Regions from separate parts of the Homo sapiens genome. Here regions 2 and 3 are each linked to region 1. The links come from fine-mapping of genetic effects on gene expression. A gene starts in region 1. Each other region holds a variant in brackets. All regions are shown on one strand. Distances are between the middles of the regions. Region 1 holds the start of GGNBP2 (gametogenetin binding protein 2). Region 2 has its middle 23 kb from the start of ZNHIT3. Region 3 overlaps ZNHIT3 (zinc finger HIT-type containing 3).

Region 1 (8,180 bases):
CCGGGTGTGGTGGCTCACACCTGTAATCCCAGCACTTTGGGAGGCCGAGGCGGACAGATGACCTGAGGTCAGGAGTTCAAGACCAGCCTGGCCAACATAGGGAAACCCCCATCTCTTCTAAAAATACAAAAAAATTAGCTGGGCGTGGTGACACGCACTTGTAATCCCAGCTACTCAGGAGGCTGAGGCAGGAGAATCACTTGAGCCTGAGAGGCAGAGGTTGCAGTGAGCCAAGATCAGGCCACTGTACTCCAGCCTGGGCGACAGAGCGAGACTGTGTCTCAAAAAAAAAAAAACTTTAATTCTTCAGATTTCTCTAAAATCAAATATGTATTCTATCTGTTATTTTATAATTGTAGTAACACTGAACAACATTTTAGCCAGAGTATAAAACTTTCTTAAATATTTCACCATTCCACCAACTTATTTGGAATTTTCTCAAGTACACCTACATCAGCCCTATCCTATACTCAGGTGTTCAAACTCACTGAACTACCATGGGAATCTTCTAAACATGGACACAACATATCACATAAAAGAAGAGGCTATTTTTTTTTTTGAAACGGAGTTTCACTTTGTCTCCCAGGCTGGAGTGCAGTGGCGCAATCTTGGCTCACTGCAACCTCCGCCTCTGGGGGTTCAATCAATTCTCTTGCCTCAGTCTCATCAGTAGCTGGGTCTACAGGCACACTCTACCACACCCACTGATTTTTTTGTATTTCAGTAGAGACAGGTTTTTACCACATTGCCCAGGCTGGTCTCAAACTCCTGAGCTCAGGCAATCTGCCAGCCTCGGCCTCCCAAAGTGCTAGGATTACAGGCATGAGCCACAGCACCGGGCCTAAGGCTACTTTTTTTTTTTTTTTTTTTTTTTTTTTTTTTTTTTTTGAGACAGAGTCTTGCTCTTGTTGCCCAGGCTGGAGTGCAGTGGTGCGATCTCGGCTCACCGCAACCTCCACCTCCCGGGTTCATAGGATTCTCCTGCCTCAGCCTCCTGAGTAGCTGGGATTACAGGCACCCACCACTATGTCTGGCTAATTTTTGTATTTTTAGTAGAGACGGGGTTTTGCCATGTTGGCCAGGCTGGTCTTGAATTCCTGACCTCCAGTAATCCACCTGCCTCAGCCTCCCAAAGTGCTGGGATTACAAGCGTGAGCCACCAAACCCAGCCTAAGGCTACTTCTTTACATACAAGTTTGTTAATTTCATTTTACAAGTCCAAATTACAACTGCCAGTTTAACTAAGGGTAAAGTTTCAGCATCCCAACTAAAATGATAAAGTCTGCAACTGCCTGTAAACATTGTAACTATATTGCAACATTTAGCTACTATCAAAATCCTAAGACTACTATTTGAAATAAGTTCAAACAATGTTTCCTCAGTGCATTACCTACAGACCCTAGGGACAAAGACAAAACCTAAGGTTAACTTCAGGCATCCACTGCCATCTATCAAAGGAACAATGCAGAGCATAAAACTCTGATAGGGGCATCTTCCTTCCCTCTTCCCTTTTCCCCTTCTCTCCCAACAGGTGTTTTGCTCTGCATTCTCCCTTTCAGTAGTATTTGGTAGAATATCCTGAAAGAAACTTGTTTCCCTTGACAAGAATTTTCACTAACATTCACTCACAGCATTCAATGACTGTGCAGAAGTCCCAGCACAAATAAATGTCTCACTCATTCCTTTGTGATAAAAACCCATTCTGAAGCAAAGAAAAACTGCACCTTTTCCTAAATGTTATTTTGAGATATTTAAATTAAGTGAGCTTAAGTTTTATTTGCCTTAGTCACAAGTCCACAGTACAATAAAAGCAAAATTCAACCGCCAGATACAGTGCAAAGTAAGTTCCATACTAAACCACATTGCAAGGTTACATCTTTTTCAGTGGAAAATTTTGGAAAGTCACATCATTGTGGAGAGAATACAGTATAAAAGCACTTAAAAAGTTGGCCATTTTAAAGTGCTATATGACAGATGTATTAATGTGCTGCATTCACAAAGGTGGTTATGTGAATATACCAAGAACTAGTGTCTTTTGAAGACTATTTATGTTGGTTTTCCCTATGTTTTGATATGTTTTCCTATGTTATGATTATTCATTAAATAATAATCTTATATCCAAACTCACTGAATTTTTTTTTTTAACTCCACAGCCATTGTGGGACAATAAACCTTAAAGGCTGATATCATAACTATATGCTTCAGAAAAGTGTTTATGTTAGCAGGGGAGAGAAGAAAGAAAATATCAACAAATGAATCCCTATCTGAAGTCCAAACTGAGAAATGCATTATTTAATATGATCACAGTGCTAGTTTCAACTATTTAAAAATACAAGTCCATTATACTTCTAATGCAAAAAGTACAGAAATCATAATCAAGACACACAATTTCTAATGCATCAACACTATTTACTTTATGTCAGAACAAATCATTCTACCTTTTTTCATGAAAAATAAATGCACTTGAATAATTAGAAATGCTGTCACTTAAAAACTTCTAATAAATTAAGTCATTCAATAGCTCTTCTAATCCTTTTTAAAGTACTGCAGCTCAATCAAGTCTTAATTGAGACTGGCAAGCATAAAGGCATAGACTGGCATCTCTACAATGACTTGCATTTTACATAAAATTTGAAAAAACTTCGGTAGATATTTGCAAAAAAAAATATTGAGGAACAAAACTGATCAACTGCCTTTGATAGCAAAAGAATACTGATGAGATGAAGAGACTTAGGTGCACCTTATCGAAATAAGCAAATGTATAATCCAAAGCTTCAGCATCATCAAAACGCAGATTTCAAAAGATATTCGGAAAAGGTTAATTTCATTTCTTAAGTGGCAAGCAACTGCACTCATTTCCTGTTCAGATTCAATTCAAATTTCAGCCATTTCCTTTTAAAGGAAACAGTACAGCAACATAGGGCAGAGGGTCGATAATGCTACACTACCAAATCTAAAGAATAAAGTACCCGGAACTGGGTCTTGACACTCAAGATGAGCAATCAGCTTTTTATAGTACTCTTACACATTCAATAATTTGGCTTCCTTTAAAAAAAAAAAAGTCCACCTGTAAACTAAATAATGCGAAGAAAGCCCGTTTTGAAGAAAGGGCCTAGCAATACAATCATTTCAAGAGTTTTAATGCATTAGGCAATACGAGACTATTTACAACGAAATCAAACCATTTTAGTGGAATCTTGACTGTGCACGAGCATGTCACTCTGCCCCCAGTAATTAAGCTTATGTGGTGAGAGCTACCAGTATTAAAACAGAAAATACACAGGTAGCAGTGCAGCTGCGACATTACCAGGTAATTAAGCCTCCCCGAGGGTAGGTGGTTTCTGTATGGGGTAGGCCCTAAACGCCCAAGATCCTTCAACCCCTCTCTGAGATGTGTGCTTTGACAAAAGCAGCGTCTCCTAAAGGGAAAGGGTCAAGGAATAAGGTTCCAAAAGAAGGAAAATCTGGAGAGAGGGAGTGCGTACGGAGCTCTGGGCTTGGGGCCGACAGAGGTTACCGAGCCACCCACTGCAAAGGCGAGTTTGTGGGGCCTGCTGAAGAGAAGGCCTCGCCTAGGAGTTGCAACACACTCTTTCTCCAGTGCGCAGCGCTCGGCCTGGGGGAGGGGGAGGAGGGGAAACAGCTGCCAGGGGAGCGGCGGGCCCAGCCCGGCCCGGCCCGCTCACCGTCAGGGTGTCGTCTATGTAGAGGGGAATCTGCCTCCTCTCGAAGGGGAACTCCTCCTCCCCGTCCCTGCACACTGCCACGAGTCGCGCCATCGTCCCCGACGCTGCCGTTGCCACCGTCACCACCTCCTCCCAGCTGCCGCCGCCGCCGCCGCTGCTGTTTCTGCCGCCGCCGCTGCCGCCTCCTCCCAGCTCCTGCCTGCAACAGCCAAACCCCGCGAGCGTAAGCACCCGCCGCTGCGCAGCACATTCGCCACGGGGGGCAGGGAGCGGAGCGGGAGGGTACGGGAGAGCCGGGCTGCGTTTCCCATCACCCGATTCCACACACGCTCAGCCAATCAGCGCCCAGCGCCGCCGGGACCCGCCCCCCTCGCGCCGCGCTCCCTCCCTCTCTCCCGCCCGCCCGCCCGCCCGCCGGCCTCCAGTCAGGGTCCAAAGGAGAGGCGGAAGGGACCGGCCTGCCGGGGGCTTCCCCGCCCGCTGCAGGAGTCCCGGCCCCAGGACCCCACCCCTGGCCTGGGCCCCGCAGCCTGTTCCCCGCCGCCCGCCGCCCGGGTGCCCTCTGCCCCCAACTGACCCCTTCTCCCCGCTTCTGGGCGCACCCCGCCCAGTCGGCCCCAGGACTGCAGTTGCCCAGCGCGACCCCGCCCCTGGGAGGGATCGACCCCGCAGCGGCTCTGCGGAGTCCAGGGAACGGGGAGGCTCAGACCCTTTCCTCACCCTTCTCGGAGGAGGCTGTCGGTTCCGACCTTCACCGTTTTCGTGGTCGCCTCGCTAACTCCCACCTCTGCTCCCTGTTACTGGCTGACGAGGCCCGCGTCAGGGCCGGCGTGGGCGGGAGCGCAGCTCCGAATGTCGTTTCCTCTACGGGCAGTCAGCCGCTCGCGCCGCGGGGAGTGGAAGAAGGAGGGCGGGGGACGAGGGGAAGGTGGGGCCGGGCGGGGTCGGGCGCCGGGCGGGACCCACGTCCTCTCGCGAGACTGGGGCTGGCCGCGCTGGGGACCCCGCTGGAGAAATTTGCGCCCAGAGGGTGCGGGGCCGCCCTGGCCGTCCCGCCCGTGGGCCCGGCGCCCTTCTCGGAGCCCAGCCATTCCGCTAGACCCGAACTAGGACTGGTAGGAGGGGTGATCGGCCCAACCTCAGGCCCCAGCCGCGGGCCGGGAAGGCTTCCCCACGGACGAGGGGCAAGCCCCTCGACGTCAGGGTGTCGTCTATGTAGAGGGGAATCTGCCTCCTCTCAAAGGGGAATTCTTTCAGCGAGTCAAGCCCGTCTGATTCGGGGCTGACTCAGGGCAGAGGCCCAGAGAGGACCTGGATAGGTTGCGAGAAGTCGAGATCAGAGGGGGCGGAAGGCAGTGAGAAAAGGGAGACGAGCATCGGGGGGTGAGAGACAAACTCAGGTCTGGCTCTTGGCCCTTGACGCCACTGAATTCGCTTCCCACGGTGGGAAGAGGAGAAAAGGGCCCTGACACCGCGGCTCGCCAGGGGCCCGCTGCGTAGCTGCATCCCGATCCCGCTGAGGGGACAGCAAATAGTGAAGTGCTGATAGCTTGTGGTTGTCGTTACACTGGAAGGAAATAGAAAACCGGACAGTGGTGTGTGTGTGTGCGTCTTGGCCAAAGGAACTTCTTGGGCTGGGTTAATGTGAGCAGGTACTCCCTTGGGCGAAGTACTGGCACTGGCCAACGGCCTTTCCCTCTGGCCGTCTCCGAGGAAGCAGAGCTGCTGTGAAGACAGTTCCTCTCGCCACCGTGTGTTCAGTTCTGACCTTGAAGGTTTTGGAGGTCTGTTGTGAAGATATTTAGCCTATGAAAGTCCTGGTGATCTGAAGGACAGATCAATTTACTGCTCTATTTCCTGGAGCTGTGATACCTTTAAAAAAAGTATTTTGGGTCGGGCATGGTGGCTCACGCCTGTAATCCCAGCACTTTGGGAGGCCGAGGTGGGTGGATCACCTGAGGGTCAGGAGTTTGAGACCAGCCTGACCAATATGATGAAACCCCCGTCTCTACTAAAAATACAAAAATTAGCCGGGCGTGGTGGCATGTACCTGTAATCCCAGCTACTAGGGAGGCTGAGACGGGACAATCACTTGAACCCGGGAGGCGGAGGTTGCAGTGAGCCCAGATCGCGCCATTGCACTGCAGCCTGGGCAACAAGAGCGAAACTCCATCTCAAAACAAAATAAAGTATTTTGGTTATCACATGGAGTCTTAGAGATTCACAACAAATAACCCATAGTGCACCCTTAGCCATGTTGACTTAGTACATTGTGTGGTCATTGTTAGGGTCGGTGACATAATAAACGAAGAACCATTGTTCATTCCCGAAGGTGTCATTACCCGGCAAATATTTATGTCTTCTGGGCCGGGGTCATGGCTCACGCCGGTAATCCCAGCACTTTAGGAGGCGAGGTGGGTGGATTACTTGAGGTCAGGAGTTCGAGACTGGCCTGACCAACATGGTGAAACCCAGTCTCTACTAAAAATACAAAATTAGCCGAGCGTGGTGGCGCACGCCTGTTATCCCAGCTACTCGGGAGGCTGAGGCAAGAGAATCGCTTGAACCCGGGAGGCAGAGGTTGCAATGATCCGAGATCGCGCCATTGTGCTCCGGCCTGGGCGACGAGTGAAACTACGTCTCAAAAAAAAATTTTTTTTATGTCTTCTGGCCATGTTAGCAGAGTAGAAGAGTGAGTATTAGCTTGAATCTAATACGTATGTATGATGTTCATATACATAGCCAAAATTTGGACATTTTTAGAGAATCTTGCGTTTTATGTAAAAAACAAAACAAAAACCAGGACGGGGGCGGCGGCTAACACCTGTAATCCCAAGACTTTGGGAGGCCAAGGCGGGCGGGTCACTTGAGGTCAGGAGTTCGAGACGAGCCTGGGCAACATGGAGAAAACCTGTCTCTACTAAAAATACAAAAATCAGCTGGGCGTGGTGGCGAGCACTTTTAATTCCAGCTACTCCGGAGGCTGAGGCAGAAGAATCGCTTGAACCGGGAAGGCGGAAGTTGCAGTGAGCCAAGATACTGTGGCCTTCAGTATCTAGAGGTGCTCCTACAGTGGTACATCAATTAATGTACCCACTTTAAACCTTTTTTTTTTTTTTGAGACGGAGTCTCACTCTGTCGCCCAGGCTGGAGTGCAGTGGCGCTATCTCGGCTCACTGCAAGCTCCGCCTCCCGGGTTCATGCCATTCTCCTGCCTCAGCCTCCCGAGTAGCTGGGACTACAGGCGCCTGCCACCACGCCCAGCTAATTTTTTGTGTTTTTATTAGAGACGGGGTTTCATCGTGTCAGCCAGGATGGTCTTGATCTCCTGACCTCTTGATCCGCCCGCCTCGGCCTCCCAAAGTGCTGGGATTACAGGCGTGAGCCAACGTGCCCAGCCTAAACCTTTTAGACTTCATTAGGATTCTGGTTGGTAAAGAACATTAAAAATGACAAGCTCATTATATAGGTGCTAATTTTAATTACTTTGACTACTGAACACACGCCAGGTACTAACAAAGAAGGGAGTATTCACCCTGGGGATTTAAATCTGTGAAAAGGTATTAAAACATATATAAAACATAATAAAATGAAATCCCAAAGGTCTCTTTCCATCTGAGCTTACTTTCCCTAATTTGGGTTTGTCTCTTAGGTCCACCGGGCATACTTAGTATCTTTGGACAAATAGGAATTCAATGAAAACGTATTCTTAAAGGCGAAAAAGGTGGATTTGCTAGGTAAGTTGCTGTTTCTCAAGGAGGTAGCCTGGGTGCTATAAATCCAATCCAATCTAATCTAATCTAATACCATACAATATAATACAATCGATACAATAAAATCAATATCCCAAGGAAAACGCTTAGAAAATTATTTCATGGCAAAATAATTTTTCAAAGTTTTCACTGTGCATCTTCCTGGTTTTAGAGTAGGCACTTATTTTTATTTTCACTATTGCTCTATTTTTAGCCATAACCACCAGTACTGCAGCAAATACTTCTTGAGAATTATCCTATGTACTTTAAAATGAAAAGTATCTGCTTTTAGAGAGCAAACCTCTAATTGACGAAATATATAATTGCTACATTAAAAGACAGTTGTCTGTTGCCTATTATTTCATTTTGATATTGGCATTGTGAAATGCAAGTTCAAAGGATTTGAAAGGCCAGGAAAGTAAAGGCAATCAACAGCAGAACACATTTTGCTGGTACCTAATAAAGAACAGTTGGAGGGACGGAGCTGTAATAAATTATCAGCAAACTACCATTCTTTTTCTTAGGTCCAAATGTGTGAGACGCTAGCCACAAAATGCAGGCATAAATGAGATCTATCTGTTCTCCAGGCTACCTAGGTTTAAAAAAAATGAAAAGTACCAAGGTATTCCTTATTATGTCTTAGCTTCATAGACTATATTTAAACTCCTAGGGAGGAACATAAGGTTCTTGTATGATTTATATAAATACATTGGACATTTATGCTCAATAAAAATAAAACTGG
Region 2 (8,180 bases), 82 kb after region 1:
TTAAATACCAAAATTTGGTTCCCTTTTAACTACATGCCTAATCCTACTTCCTTTCTCAGCCAGAATTGTAAACCTTATTTTATTCTGGCTTTGCCTGGGTAGTCCCACCATTGTCTTCCAACATTCTCAGGGGAATCTGTAAGATTGCTATCCGAAAACTTTGTGGGGGAAATTATACAACAATTTGAAAAACTTTAAAGAGTACATAAATGATGGAATGTTAGTCCTATGTACTAAAAATGCCAATTATCTTGTAATTCATTTAAACAGTCAAAGAGATTCTAGTCTAGGTGCAGTGGCTCATGACTGTAATCCTAGAAGTTTGGGAGGCCAAAGCAGGAGGATCACTTGGGCCCAGGAGTTAGAGACCAGCCTGGGCAACATGGCAAAACCCCGTCTTTACAAAAAATATATAAAAATTAGCTGAGTGTGGTGGTGTGTACCTGCAGTCCCAACTACTTGGGAGGCTGAGGTGGGAGGATAATTTGACACTGGGAGGCAGAGGAGGATCACGTGCAGTGAGCCATGATTGTGCCACTGCACTCCAGCCTGGGCGACAGAGCGAGACTCCGTCTCAAAAAAAAAAAAAAAAAAAAAAAAAAAGTCTTTAGCCAGAATGGATCACCATTGAATGGGCCTATATTTTCCAAGCAGGATTTGATTAAATCTGGTCACACTTTAGGCCTCAAATTCAGAGATGATGTAGGCAACGCTCAGTGGAGACATCCCATAATGGAAGTGGACAGAAGTCCAGGAAGAATGACCTGACTCTGCAGTGCCACCAGAGTTGCTATAAAGTTCTGAAATATATTATGTTTCTTCATAAAAGTTAAGTTCTACAGTCAGCATGAAAGTCAGAAACTACATTGCGGTTTTTTTGTTTTGTTGTTTTTTTGAAACAGAGTCTCACTCTGTCACCCAGACTAGGCTCACTGCAGCCTCCACCCTCTGGGCTCAAGCCATCCTCCCACCTCAGCCTTCTGAGTAGCTGGGACTGCAGGCATGCACCACCACGCCTGGCTAATTTTTTATATTTTTTGTAGAGACGGGATTTCACCTTGTTGCCCAAGCTGGTCTTCAACTCCTGGGCTCAAGTGATCTGCCTGCCTCAGCCTCCCAGAATGCTGGGATTACAGGCCTGAGCCACCATGCCCAGCCAGAAACATGTTTTAAACCAACCCTCAACCAACCCATACTTTGGAGAAATACCTACAGAAACTAAGATTGGTGGGAGGCCCAGCAGCGTCTCACCTCCCATCTCAGACTCAGTCCAGGACACAGGCTCAGGGGGCAGAAGGAGGGCTGATTCGCCTGCATCTTTTGAAATTCTTTCTTTCTGTCTCTGCCTCTGCCTCTCTCTGTCTTCCTCCCTTCCTCTCTCTCTCTCTCTCTCTCTTTCTCTCTCTCTCTCTTTATTTATTTCACCTGAGTTTCAGAGTCCTTGGCTGAATTTGTCCACAACTTCCTGCAGCTCTAGCTGGGAGCCGAGAAGCATCACTGAGGACCACAGCCCCTTGCTTCCCAGAGCCCGGTCCCCTGCACTGAGACTGCTGTTTTGGCGCCTGTGGTGGTCCTCTTCATCCTCCACTCTGCTTCCCAACTCACTTACCACATATGGTCACCACCTCCTGGGTCATGTCACAGGGTACCAGGGCTGGAGTTGTTTCACCAGGTCAACAGGCATGGCTGCTGCCCTAGTTAGAGAATGTCCTAGAAGACAGGTCAAACCATCATGACATCCTTGGGACCAGGGGATAGGAGACAGAGGCCCCCAGTGCACAGTTGTGTGCATTGGTGCCCATATCCCCTTGCTCAACTTCTAGGAACTGGCTCTGGCCCCCTGCACACTCCACAGGCCCCTCCTGCCAATCTGCCTCTAACAATTTTCCTGCCTTCCCCTTTGGAGGGCAAAGACCAGAGGTGGCCCCTTGTTTTGTTGAGAAGCTCAGGGATCTGGTTCTTCCAAGGAGTCTTGGAATCAATCCCTCCTTGTCACTGTGCCCTAGAGTGTCTTGTAGCCTCCATTCCCATGGGTCTTCTTGGGCAGGTGGCAAATAGAGCTGACTGAGCAGTAGGGTGACTCCTTCCAACCTAGAATCCCAAGCTGCACAGTAAGGACGTAAGAGGACCGCCAGGCCCAGCACTCCCACTCTCCCCATGTGAGGGTAAAAGTTGATGACATCTCCCAGCCCTGCGAAGGTCCCGCATCCCACTACCTGCCCTCCCGCAGCTGGAAGGGCTGACTCCTGGAGAGGGAGGATTTACCTGAGGGCTCTGACCACCTTAACTGCCCAATGCCTTTCTGGAGACAGTGGCTGCCAAAGGAGACACGGACCTGTTGCCCATCTGGACAGTGTTTGTCAGGGAAGAAAGGGCGGCTTATGCAGCAGCCAGGCAGCACCGGGAAGGAGCTGGGTTGCTCCCGCCTTCCCGTTTGCATCACGCGACTCCGCGGGTCCCAGCGCGGCCCTGGCTAACCCGGATCGGCGCCACTGCCGGGTCACTGAGCCTCTCCAGGACGGAGCCTCGCTTCGCGCAGGAGCCCAGGCCATCCTCGCTGCGGAAAAAAGGCGGGATTCCTCTCCTGACCCATAGTAAACGAGCTGCGCTGGGGCGCGGGGAGCAGACTGCTTTTCTGGGGAAGCCGTGGGGCTCTCCACTTTTCGGGGTGGGGAGGGGAAGCTGAGCAGGGCGCAGACCAGGGGCCTGCCACATGGCCTCTGCGCCAAAAGAGTAGAGCCCAGGATGAGGGGCCCCTAGCCAGGCAGACCCAGCCCAGGAGGTTTTGGGTCTTGGGGCCTTGGGTGTGGACTGGTCCTAGATGAGCCCGCCAGGTTGGGTGCCACCGGCCTTGACGGGTTCAGGAGATGGGACGTTATGTCTAGACGCCGCCACGCTTTATCGCAAGCCCGGGCCTCATCTAGACCCCAAGGGGCACCCCAACCTGTTTAGGGTTCCCGGGACTCGTGCGCTTGCCCGCCTAAGGCGGTAAATTGCCATCGTCTCCAAAGGCCGCCCCCACTTCGTCCGCTCCCCACCCGCCCCCAACCCCAGGCTCAGAACCCGCCAGAGCAATCCAGGCCCGTTCTCTAGGTCAGAAATGCCGGCCCTGGGGTCATTTGTCCCTGTAGGGAGAGCGCCACCCGCTTGCCCCGGGGCGCTGTCCAAGCCGCGGTGCTGAAGCGCTCCGGGCCCTGACTCAGCGAACACACAGTCGTCACCGCGTGCAGCCGCCACTCCCCAGCCTGGGCCCGCTCCAGGCCGCGCCCACACCGGCTAATCATCCGCCCGGATGCACGTCTGCCTCATCAGGCTTAAACTAGAATCGCCTCGGAGGTTGGAGATTCCTGAGGAGGCCCAGAAAGGGCCAATGCTTGTCCCGGGCCAGGCAGCTGGGAGAGTGTGGAGCTCCATTCCTGAGCTCCATCCCGGATCCCGCAAGCAGCGGCTCACTCTGCCTGCTCCAGACCCGTCCCCTCCAGTGAGCCCAGAGGAGGGTCCACTCACTCTCGAAGAACGCATTCTTCCCACTGGCATCCAAGCCCAGCAGACCCTGCTACCTATGGGGTGGTGGGGGGGAGCGCAGTCAGACAATCCCTGGAATTGGTCCCGCACACCGCCAGCAGTGAAGATGCCTCTCTCCCTTATTTCTGGATGCCCCCCACAGCTTCTATGGATGCCCACAACCCCTTCCTCCCTCCACCCTCAATGTCCAAGCAGGCAAAGAAGACCGGGTGTCCCCAGTGAAGGGCTCTGCAGTGAGGGGTCTAGAATCTTGCCCTTGAAGGAGTAAATGATATCCCTCGAGTTGAGCGTGATCATGATGGCATGATATTGGGCCAGGCACTAGTCCAGCAAAGAGAGGCCAGAAGAAGCAGCCAGATGGCAGTGCTGGTGCCCAGAACCATGACCTGTCTTGCCCCAGG[C/G]CCCCACGGGTGACTTCTTAGAGTCGGCCAAGGATCAGTGCAGGCCAGGAGAGAGATGAGATAATAGTCAAGGCAAAAGGGTTTTGAGAGGATGTTCCAGGGGAGCAGAGCTAGCTGCCAGCACTCATTTGGTAGATACAAATGTCGTGTCCTGGTCTCTGGTCTCGGCAGATGTGTTCAATAACTCACGTCTGGCATCTCCAACTGCTAGGCCGTTCCATTTCGAGCTGTGGAGAGCATTCTGGCTAGACCCCGTGAGCAGGGCCCCAGGGGACTGGGCTCTGTGTCAGGGATGAGTTCACACTATGGCAAAGAGCAGGTGGTGGCCTCAGGGCTGTTGAGCTGTCCCAGAACAGGATTCTTTTCTTTTCTTTCTTTCTTTCTTTCTTTCTTTCTTTCTTTCTTTCTTTCTTTCTTTTCTTTTCTTTCTCTTTCTTTCTTTCTCTTTCTTTCTTTCTTTCTTCCTTCCTTCCTTCCTTCCTTCCTTCCTTCCTTCCTTCCTTCCTTCCTTCCTTTCTTTCTTTCCTTTTTTGAGATGGAGTCTCACTCTGTCACCCAGGCTGGAGTGCAGTGGCATGATCTTGGCTCACTGCAACCTCCATCCCACGGATTCAAGTGATTCTCCTACCTCAGCCTCCCAAGTAGCTGGGATTACAGGTGCCCACCACCATGCCCAGCTAATTTTTGTGTTTTTAGATAGACATGGGGTTTCGCCATGTTGGCCAAGCTGGTCTGCAACTCCTGACATCAAGTGATCCACCTGCCTCAGCCTCCCAAAGTGCTGGGATTACAGGCGTGAGCCACCTCGCCCAGCCCAGAATCAGGATTCTTAAAATGATTGTGCTGCATACTGAATCATGTTGCTTTTGACTCTTGTAGCTGGCCCCCTTCCTTCTCTAGGGTGCCTGCTGGTACACCCTGGATGATGTCTGAGACAGATGGTGCTGCTCAGCCCCTTGAGGGGCTGCTCTGCCCCATGGTTGAGGTGGACTGTCAACCATGGGGCAGGAAGATCTAACTCCCCTCCCTCATGGTCCTCACATTGTGGGTCCCCTGGCAATAGATAATAACAAGTGTCACCATGGACATTAGAGTGACCCCAAGAGACAGAAAAGGTGGGTATTAGTGAACACATTAGGGGAGACAGAAGGGCAGAGAGGGCACGGGACAGTCACCAAGACTCCTAATGACTAACTTCTTCAAACTTCTCAGCAACATCCTCTTCCCTGTCCCCTGCTCTCCACCTCATCCATCAAGGAGCTGATGCTAATGGGGTTCCCTTGTTCAGAGCCAGACTGCTATGGTTACTATGGTAGTTAACAAACAGCCACTCCAGGCTCTTAACAAAGTAATCCTCCTGGAGGGACAGAAGAGGGCTTCTGTGGCCCGAGGACCAACATGTTACCTCTTGGCTGGCTTGGCAGCCATGGCAAGGACATGAACAGCATCCACTGAGGAAAGGAGACTGCTGGGCACACCGTGGGGAGGGGCAGGAGCCTGGAGGAAGTGCAGATGTCGGGATTTGGCTGCCGGCCACACCTGCTGGGCCCTCAGGTCGTGAGACACAAAGTGTTGCTTTACCTTCTCATTGCGGTAGCCAATCCAGAGCTGTGACAGCAGTTGTTGGGGAAGAATGTGAATCCAAACGCATTCAGCAAGCCTGCTAGAATGGGAAAAACCCAGGGGGCCCTGGGAGAGGGTCTCCCTGAAGCCCAGGGTGGCAAGGCTCCCGCCAAATAGAATAATTCAGCATCTGTATAAACCAGAATAATTCTACCACCTGGATGACCTACAGTAAGGCTGAGGAACATCACACTGGGCAGTGCACAGAGCAAATGCAACCCTCCATACACCACCTGGAATGGTCCCCGTTTCCCATTCTGCTCTCTCTGTGAGCCTAGAACAGATGCAAAGGCCCAGTGGAGGATGAGGGGCAGCCCCAGCGCACCAAGGCCTACTTTTGAGTCTGTATTTTCTGGTCCTGTGTCTCTTAGGAGTAGCCCCTTCTGCTGGAACTTCTGAGCAGCTTTTTAATGCCTCATCCCCAGACAGGAAGAGATAGTCAAAGATTGTTAGCCTTTTTGAGGCCAGATGTGGTGGCTCATACCTGTAATCCCAGCACTTTGGGAGGCCGAGGCAGAAGGATCACTTGAGGCTAAGAGTTCGAGACCAGCTTGGCCAACATGGTGAAACCCCATCTCTACCAAAAATACAAAAATTAGCCAGGCATGGTGGCAGTCCTGTAATCCCAGCTACTCGGGAGGCTGAGGCACAAGAATCACTTGAACCCAGGAGGTAGAGGTTGCAGTGAGCCAAGTTTGTGCCACTGCACTCCGGCCTGGGCGACAGAGCAAGACTGTCTCAAAAAGACAAAAACAGAAACAAAATCAATTTGATGGAAAGAAAGAACTAGTCTAAGAAAAAGAAAGAGCTTTTAGAATTTAAACTGTTTAGCCAGGTGCGGTGGCTCACACTTATAATCCCAGAGCTTCTGAAGGCTGAGGTAGGAGGATCTCTTGAGACCAGCCTGGGCAACAAGTGAGACCCCATCTCTTAAGAAAAATGTTTTAAATAATTTAAGCTGTTTAATAAAAATTCAGTAGGATTGGAGGATAAAGTTGAAAAAATCTCCCAGGAAGTTAGCTGGAGGTAGGGGAAGGAGAATTGGAGTAAAAGAAAAGGAAGGAAGGAAGGAGACGAAAAGAGTTAGTTGATTAACTTCGTATTAGTAGAAATTCTAGGAAGAGAAAACAATAGGGAGGAAATTATTATAACGAATTTTTGTAAATCCCCAGAATGGAAGAGCATATGTTTACCAGCTGAAGGAACTGATACCACATATCCACATAATGCGTGAAAAAAATACCATAGAAAGCACAGCACTGGCAATTTTGAAAAATGCCTACAGGATAAACAAAAGATCCTAAAACTTCTGGGGGAAAAGAAGTCCACCCCCTAGGGACTAGATATTGTCACAGCAACACCGGAAGAATACAGAAGTAAACTTCAAATGTTGGAGGGAAAACTATCTCCATATGGAAGTACATATCTAGTCAAAATATTGATCAAATGTAAGAGTAGAAAAAAGATATCATTAGATGTTCAGGGTCTGAAAACTTTACCTTCCATGTACCTCTGCCAGGAAACTTCCAGAGAATGTACCTCACAAACGTAAAGAAGTGAACTAAAATGCAGAAGCTGTGAGACTCAGAAAAATGGGATGTCATGGGGTGGGAGTGGAGTGCCTGGGGACCCCATAAATGAAGGGGCAGAAACACTCATGCATGACAATTCATAGCAGGAACACGAGGCAGCCAGCCCAAACAGAAGCGGGAGGTCTGAGAGCTCCAGAAAGCCTGGGAGATGCCCTGGTCATTTCCCTGTCCCACCCTCCTACCCCTGGTGCCTCACCCAGGGCTGGCAAAGGAAGGGAGCTCAACTCATATGTGGATGATGGCAGATCCAGCGCACAGGCACGAATGAGTTCATGATGAAAGTGAAGTGCCAGGGCATGAGAGTGAAGTGCCGGGCAGGCAGTTCCCTCTGAGCAGCTGTGCCACTACCACTTGACACACACTACATGCTCCTGCAGCAGCCCTGTTGCTGCCACCAGACGCCCACACCACCCCGGGAGCCTCTGTCCTCGCCCAGCCAGTCCTCAGCATTGTCCCTACCTCCATGGGAACAGATATGAGAGGGATGCTGGTGAGCGGCAAGCAGGCTGCTCCAGCAAACCCTCTTTCATAAGTAACCCAGTTAACTTCTGAGGTGCCCTGAGCATCTGCTATGCTTGGCACCAAGTGCTTTATATGTGTACTTTTTAATCCACTGGGAGGCCATTTTATAGGGAGGGAGCTGAGGCTTGGGGTCTGAGGTGGGGGCACCAGGCTCCATCTCCTTCCTCATGTCCTGTGCCGACCCTGGGTGATTACCCTCAACCTCAAGTCAGAAACCTGCCCCTTGTGGGCAGGGACCCAGCATGGCCGGAAAGGGGTCTTTGGTTGGGTTTGTGTGGTCTACATCATGAGTCCAGTCACATGGGATTCCCAGTACATGATAGGGTATTCTGGTACCTCCAAGACCTGGGGTGGCAGGGCAGTGAGAGGGAGGGTATTTGTAGACCAGATAATGCCAGATTTGGGTTCAGTGCTACTGGACCCATTCTGTATGTGGAGCAGAAACAAGGGAGCCGGGGCCCTGTACTCCGATGTCTGTAGCTCAAGGAAGGGTCTGACGCATGCCCTAAACAGAAAT
Region 3 (8,180 bases), 52 kb after region 1:
TGCTGGGATTACAGGTGTGAGCCACCGTGCCCAGCTGTTTTTATATAAGCATCCAGGGAAAAGTCAGCCAGCACACTCAGGAAGTCATTGTCACTCAGGGCTTTGTGAGTCACCCCAGTAAGCCAGGCCTCATAGAATTAAAGTGGCCGAGGAAAGGTGAAAGTATGTTGCACTGGGAGGTAGAACCCCAGGGTCTGGATCCTGGTTCTGCCCCATTCACTGGATGATCTTGGCTAAGACACATTTTCTCGGAGCCTGTCTATAAAATGGGCTAATACTCAACCTACTGCATGGAGTCACAGCAAGGAGTAAGTGAAATGACAAGGCAGAAGGAAACACCAAATTTCCATTCAGAGGAATAACTATAGGCCTTAATCTGGATGAAGTCTCCCATGAAAACACACAGGCCTGCTAAACAGAAGGGTAAATGTTTTGCCCTTCTGGCTTTAAGCAGTCATAGGAATGTGACAGACATTCCTCTTAGGGAGCGCCTCCTCCTAGGGTTTCCTCATCTGTCTCACACTGAGTGGATGTAATGCTATTTTAATCCTGCTGTGGCCCCCAATACTAGTACTTGTCCATACCTTCTTGCATTTTTAGCGTCTGCTCTGTGGGGTTGTTAGGCCCTGGCACTCCCAGGAACTAGTGCTAAAGCTGCATCTCTCTCTCCCCTCTAGGGATCGATAAAGTTTCACTGCAGAAAGTCTCCACTGCGGTATGCTGACATCTGCCCTGAACCTTCACCCTACAGCATTACAGGCTTTAATCAGATTCTGCTGGAAAGACACAGGCTGATCCACGTGACCTCTTCTGCCTTCACTGGGCTGGGGTGATCCTTGGTGCCTTTGTTTCCACAAGGCCTTTTCCTGCCCCCTGCCTTGCCAAAGACATTTAATCAGCACACAGCTGCCAGACTATTCCCACAGTGCTCCAAATGCACATGAACAACAGTGACGGCTCCAGCCTTCGACCCAGAGCCCCGTGCCCAGTGCGTCAGTGGGCCTGGGGTTCCAGGCTACATCAAGCACTGATGGTGTCAGGGCTGGTAGTTACCAAATCAGGGTTAAGAAACATCAGGGCCACATTTCACTACCTTCACAGATCAAACTCAGCAGCAGTCATGACTGTCTGTCACTACACTGGGGATCCCAATTCCACATAAGCACTTTTGGAAGAAAACAGCCAAAGTTGGCCTAAAATTGGCGCTGGAATTTGGGCTGGGAAAAATCTTGTGGTTATTTCCTTTAAAAAGGAACAAAACTTTAGTATTTAATTAGTTGATTTATTTAATGTAATTTCAAACAATTAAATTATGAATAATGCAATGTACAGTAGAATCACGTTTTGATTTTATTAACACTGACCAAGTTTAACTCCATATGAAGTGTAAGCTTGATATCGTTTATGATGTCTATCAACTGTACCAAAAGTAAAACATTTAAAAACAATCATCTGAATGTCAAGTTTTCTCTCCATAAAGGACTTGCCACCTTAAGGACCCCAAGTCTGCCTGAAACATGAGCCACATCAATGCCGGTAAAGGCCTGCATGACCTAATCTGCATCCTGGAAACCTCTTTTGCCTGAGCTCCCCAGCCCCAAACTAGCTGGTCTGGGAGAGGGAGCAGGCAGGTTCCAGGAGTCAAGCACACGCTTGAGCAAGCAGCACAATAATCCATCTTAAGACTCCTCATTCTGGGATGGCTCCACAATTCCTAAACAGCAGTCTGCAAACTCCACAAACAAAGGCTCTTGCATGTAAGCTCTCATGAGCTTTGCTTTGTCTTCTCCCTGATCGAGGTTGACCATCAACTGCCTGAGGTGTGGATTGAGCAATAAGCTTCTTAATGTTGCAGATTCCCCTAAAAATTAACAAGAAAAAAAGCCAGTCTGAGTTCAAGTGGAAACACATGGAGATGGCTGAAAAGTGAAGAGCTATTTCAAGTGTAATAAAACTATCAGCAAGGTGTGGTGGCTCATGCCTGTAATACCAGCAACTGGGGAGGTCAAGGTGGGCAGATTGCTTGAGCTCAGGAGTTCAAGACCAGCCTGTGCAACATGGCGAGACCCCACCTCTATAAAATGAAAGGTAAGACCAGCATATCAAACTATTTCCGCATTAAATGCAGTAACAGATACCAGTTCTTGGTATCTTTGTAAATATTGTAACTTCGTGCCACTTCAGCTAAGAAAAAAATGCTTTATCAGCACAATCACAAAGCAAATAGTAGCATTAAGCTGCTGGCATGTTTTCTTTCTTTCTAGCCATAAAAGTTGCCAGTGGTGAAGACGGCTATACGAAATAATCTGAATGATGTCTAAGCATGCCATTTGGCATGCAGCAGCACCAGTAGCAGGGAACCAACAATAATACCTGCATGGTACTTCACAGTCTGTAAAATTTTTCACACCTATTACTAGCTCATCTCCAAACTCAGTCTAACTAATCATTACCATGAGACTAAGTGCAAAACATAACCTTTTAACATGATTCTGTGAAATGGGAAGAATGAAATTAACAGACCCCATGCACATGTAACAGAATGTTGTAAGGACTGAATAAGCAGTGCTACAAAAATGGCAACACCTGTTTCCCCCTAAATCAAATCATGTGATAACCAGTTTGTGTTAAGGGCTGGACTGTGAGCTGAGCACTGGGGATCTGGGAATACAGGTCCCTGCTGTACAAATCGGTATGTGAGAGACAAATTACCATGAAATGTAACAGTGATTTATTACTATTAAGTCCAAGTTGCTATGGGAAACCAAAAAAGTGCCTAATTCTGAAAGAGACACAAAAGGTCAAGAAAAGCTTAGCTGAGTGAAGAAAACTTGAACCAAGGCTTGAAGGAGGAGCAGAATTTTGCCAACCCACAAGACCAGCAGGATTCCAGGCAGAAGGAATGGTGTGGGCAGGCTGGGAGGTGTGAAACCCTGTATGTTTACAGATTATGTGGCTAGATAGTAAGAGCCCTACATGCCATACTTATTCAAGAAATTAAAAACTTTTTAAAAAATCACAATCCTTACAACACAGTAAATGTATCTCAACGATTGACAAGCATAGCACAGACTTACCTAAATTCTTTAAATTCTGCAAAGAAACTCTGTCTTCTTCCTCATCACTATTGAGAAAATCAGCTATAGAGTCATCATCATCTAAGGAATACAAAACAGTCAATGGCTCATGGCTAAAAAGGAGGCCTGGGCACCAGATTTTAACCACTACTTGAACAGGATAAAAATGTGTGCACGCACATGTGATAGTGATAGGGGTATTCAAGCAGGTACAGACAAAAATCCTCTTCTCCGGAGTCTGTGACTATACTAACACTCCTTTTTTAGAAGAGGGAGGCTAAGTGAAAGAATTGGTGATTTTAACAAATGCACTCTAGTGTTCACATCCTTACTGTATATGTGGTCCTGTGGTCTTTAGGCTTAGACCCCGGTTGTCTAATAACTTAATACCCATCCCCACCTCAACATGGCTCCAACCCTGTGATGGGCCAATTAACTGGATGCTCTGTAAAAACCAGCCAAGTAGAATCTCCTGTGCTTTCAGCATGGGCAGAAACTGCTGGCATTGCCTGAACCCAACCTGGAAATTTCTCAAAGGGCAAAAATGGGCCATGCCTTTGGAGTGAATGTTCAATACCTCTTTGGTGGCACCAGAGGGGCTGCTTTCAGAGCCTGGCATGGTGCTTGACACCCAGGAGGTATTAAAGAACGTTTAGATGGCTGGACGGATGGGTTGACAGCCCACTACTGCTGTGAGCTCTGAACCCCCAGCAGCAGCGAGATGATCTAGGACAAAGAAAGCCTCCTGCCTGGGCTGAGTTCAGGTGAACTGACAGTCCCAGCCAGATTCATGGAGGGAGACCAGCAGCTATGGGCTAGAGAAGGCTCCTGCCAGCAGGGCCCACCGCAAACCCCCAAACCACAGCCATGGCCTTTCTCATCTCTGTCTTCTGCCCATTTTTCTTCTCCTGAATACTGCTTTCAGGCTGTTGCCTCAATATCACCCATGATGACATGGCCCCACTCCTGATGCTCAAGGCTAAGGAAGCTGTTCCTTCCCAATGAAGCTATTGTTCTGGATTCCCTGACCAGCCCCACTCTCCCCTTTTCCTTCGACTTATTCTATGTGAAGTCCCTTGTAGATTTGTTTGAAGTCAACCAACCCACCTTTGTTTTCCACAGGCTTTACGGTTTTGGTAGGAAGAGCTGATCTTATTTTTTTCTCAACAGGACGAGTTTCAGGGTTGCACTGTTCTGAAAAAGACACAAATCCCAGGCCCACATTACCTCCATTTCAGCGACAAGGCTGCACCTCCCTACCAAGGTAGCATCTAGGTAGGAAGCAAGTGTCTGGGGTAAGGGATGTGGGTGGGTGCCCAGGAATGTGGAAGAAGTGAGAGATCAAAGCAAGAGAGAGATTAAGGAAAACCGCCAGCAGGCTGAGAAAGCAGGACTCATTCATGCACCCCAAGAA[C/A]CTGTCCCCATCCTCCCTACCCTGCCGAATCTTACAAAATTCTCACCACAATTAACTGAGGTGTTTGAAATAGCTGCTGTAAACCAGATACCAGATGGGATAAAACTAGGGGCAAAACCACCAAAGAACTTACAGAGTCAACAGAAGGCCAGCTGTGCTGGCTCACGCCTGTAATCCTAACATTCGGAGGCCAAGGTGGGAGGATCACTTGAGCCCAGGAGTTTGAGACCAGCCTGGGCAACCTAGCAAGACTATGTCTCTACAGAAAATAAAAAAAATCATCCAGGCATGGTGGTACACACATGTGGTCTCAGCTACTTGGGAGGCTGAGGCAGGAGGATCCCTTAAGCCCAGTGTGTCAAGGCTGCAGTGAGCTGTGATTGTGCCACTGCACTCCAGCCTGGGTGACAGTATCAACAGAGCATGAAGTCACAGGAAAGGGTTCTGAGGACATAAAGGCAGGACCAGATTGTAGAGACTTAAAATGTAGATTTGACAATATGCTACGGAAAGGTTCTAGTCATGTAGGTGGCAGTTACAACAGCTGCCAGTGACTAAGTGCCGAGCACTGTGCCAGGTACACAGTGAGATACATAGTGGCTCAATGAACCTTTACGAAGCCCCCATGACATGGAGACTGTTAATTCCACTTACAGATGAAAGGATTAAATTTTCTTGTAATAAACTTGTCCATTGGGGTCCACAGCTAGTAAGTAGCAGAGGCAGATTTGGAATCCGGGTCTAACTTTACGGCTATGCTATATGTGTAAGGAACACAGCAGGAGGGACTGAAGGAGAGGTGAATTTTCTGGGTTGTACCTGACCCCAAAATACATTTGTGTCTAAGGTGCTCAAAAAGAGGCTGGAGCTAAACAGTTGGATGTCAGCAAGAAAAAAAAAAGTTTAAAGTGAAAGAGAGATCACCTACCTAGGAATAAAAGTCAAGGACCACATTTCAAGAGAGAGATCTAGCAAAAGGAAGGAGAAGCTGGGCACAGTGGCTCCTGCCTGTAATCCCAGCAATTTGGGAGGTTGAGGCAGGAGGACTGCTTAAGCCCAGGAGTCCAAGACCAGCCTAGACAATACAGTGAGACCCTGTCTCTACGAAAAATAGATAAAGTTTGTCTCCGTTACTCAGGAGGCTAAGGTGGGAGGATCACTTGGGCCCAGGAGGCCAAGGGTGCAATGAGCTGTGATCACACCACTGCACTCCATCCTGGGCAAAAGAGCAAGACCCTGTCTCGAAAAAAGGAAAAAAAAGAAAACGAGAGTCTACAGCTAAGCCACCCTGAATGCACCCTATCTCATCTGACCTCAGAAGCTGTAACAGGGTCAGGCCTGGTTAGGACTTCGAAGGGAGAAAGGGAGGAGAGAATACCACAGAGCGGTATCTTCCCAGCCTCCAAAGAATATCAAGAAAGAAAAAGCCAAACACAGCAGATATTCATGGGAATCAAGAAAGATGACAGGCTGAGCATGGGTAGCTCACGTCTGTAATCCCAACGCTTTGGGAGGCCAAGGTGGAAGGATCACTTGAGCCCAGGAATTCAAGACCAGCCCAGGCAATACAGTGAGACTTCATCTCCACAAAAATTAAAATTAAAAATAAATAAGCCAGGCATGGTGGCACACGCCTGCAGTCCCAACTACTTGGGAGGCTGAGGTAGGAGGACTGCCTGAGCCCAGGAAGTCAAGGCTATAGTGAGCACCACTGCACTCCAGCCTGGGTGACAGAGCAAGACTTTGTTGCAAAAAAATAAAAAAGACAAATGAAAAGTGTACAACAGATGTGGCTATTAGAAATTTCTGATAAAAATTATTTATTAAATACCACTTTAACACTGCCTATAGCAGCAACAAAGGCAAAATTAATGTAAATATCCACCAATAAGAAAAATAAATATTAAAATGACCATACTACCCAAAGTAATCTAGAGTCAATGCAATCCCTATCAAAATACCAATGATCCTGTTCACAGAAATGTCAAAAAAAAATTCTAAAATTAATATGGAACCACAAAAGACCCCCAATAGCCAAAGCAATCCTGAGCAAACAGAACAAAGCTGGAGGCATCACCACTACTTGGCCTCGAAATATACTACAAAGCTATAATATCTAAACAGCATGGTACTAGCATAAAAATAGACACATAGATCAATGGAACAGAATAGAGAACCCAGATATAAATTCACACATTTACAGCCAACTGACTTTTCACAAAGGCACCAAGAGCATATACTGGGGAAAAAAGCACTCTTCAATAAATGGTACTGGAAAAATAGGATAACTGTAAGAATAACCATATGCAGAAGAATGAAACTAGATCCTTATCTGTCACCATATATAAATATCAAAATGGATTAAAGACCTAAATGTAAGACCTGAAACTACTACAAGAAAACACAGGGGAAATGCTTCAGGACATTGGTCTAGGCAAAGATTTTATGAATAAAATCTCAAAAACACAGGCAAGAAAAGCAAAAATAGGCAAATGGAATTCTATTACACAAAAAAGCTTCTGTACAACAAAGGAAACAATAGAATGAAGAGACAACCCACAGGATGGGAGAAAATATTTGCAAAATATTCACTTGACAAAGGATTAATATCTAGAATACACAAGGAGCTCAACAGCCAAAAAAAAAAAAAAAAAAAAATTAAGTGGACAAATGGGCCGGGCATGGTGGCTCACCCCTGTAATCCCAGCCCTTTGGGAGGCCGAGGCAGGTGGATCACCTGAGGTCAAGAGCTCAAGACCAGCCTGGCCAACATGGTGAAACCTTGTCTCTACTAAAAATACAAAAATCAGCCAGCAGGCACCTGTAATCCCAGCTACTTTGGAGGCTGAGGCAGGAGAATCACCTGAACCCTGGAAGCGGAGGTTGCAGTAAGCAGAGACTGCGCCACTGTACTCCAGCCCGGGCGACAAGAGCAAGACTCTGTCTCAAAAAGAAAAAAAAAAAAAATGGGCAAATGAGCCAAACAGACACTTCTCAAAAGAAGACATATAAATGGCCAACAAGTACATGAAAAAATGTTCAACATCACTAATTATTAGGGACATGCAAGTCAAGACCACAATGAGGTATCATCTCACCACAGTAAGAATGGCTATTATCAAAAAGAAAAAAACATGTTGGCAAGGATGTGGAGAAAAGGGAACTCTTATACACTGCACTGTTATTGGGAATGTAAATTAGTATAGTCATTATGGAAAACAGCATAGAGGTTCCTAAAAAAAAACTACGAATAGAACTACCATATGATCCAGCAATCCCACTACTGTATATATATCCAAAGGAAATGAAATCAGTCTGCCGAAGAGATACCTGCACTCCTGCGTTTACTGCTAGTCACAACAGCCAAGATAAGGAATGAACCTAAGGATCCACCAACAGATGGATAAAGAAATGCGGTACATATATACACTGGATATTAGCCATAAAAAACCATGAAATCCTGTCACTTGCAGGAACATGGATGAGCCCAAAGAACATAATGTTAAGTGAAACAAGCCAGGCACCATAAGATGTTCTTGTTAACATGTGGATGCTAAGCAAGTTGATTTCACAGAAGTAGAGAGCAGAATAGTGGTAACTGGAGGCTAGGAAGAGTAGAGTGTAGGGGGCTAGGGAGAAGTTGCTTAATGGATACAAAATTACAGCTAGATGGGAGGAATAAGTTCTAG

Evidence for each region.
Region 2: its variant is fine-mapped to the expression of GGNBP2 in whole blood (TOPMed, PIP above 0.99).
Region 3: its variant is fine-mapped to the expression of GGNBP2 in whole blood (TOPMed, PIP above 0.99).

What each region holds. Positions count from the first base shown.
Region 1 is chr17:36,541,324-36,549,503 of GRCh38, reverse strand. GGNBP2 (gametogenetin binding protein 2) reads right to left here and starts at 4,585. Exons shown (of 14, transcript NM_024835.5): 1 at 4,407-4,585; 2 at 3,687-3,885. The coding sequence starts at 3,779. It also overlaps a transcript of MYO19 not described here.
Region 2 is chr17:36,459,156-36,467,335 of GRCh38, reverse strand. No RefSeq gene overlaps it. Among named protein-coding and RNA genes, the nearest start is that of ZNHIT3, 23 kb to the left of the region's middle. The variant C/G (reference allele first, on the strand shown) is at 3,927.
Region 3 is chr17:36,488,904-36,497,083 of GRCh38, reverse strand. It overlaps ZNHIT3 (zinc finger HIT-type containing 3), which reads right to left. Exons shown (of 5, transcript NM_004773.4): 3 at 4,185-4,271; 4 at 3,078-3,158; 5 at 1,262-1,861. The coding sequence ends at 1,680. It overlaps MYO19 (myosin XIX), which reads left to right. Exons shown (of 26, transcript NM_001163735.2): 26 at 678-1,448. The coding sequence ends at 833. It also overlaps the pseudogene RNA5SP439. Among named protein-coding and RNA genes, the nearest start is that of ZNHIT3, 6.3 kb to the right of the region's middle. The variant C/A (reference allele first, on the strand shown) is at 4,492.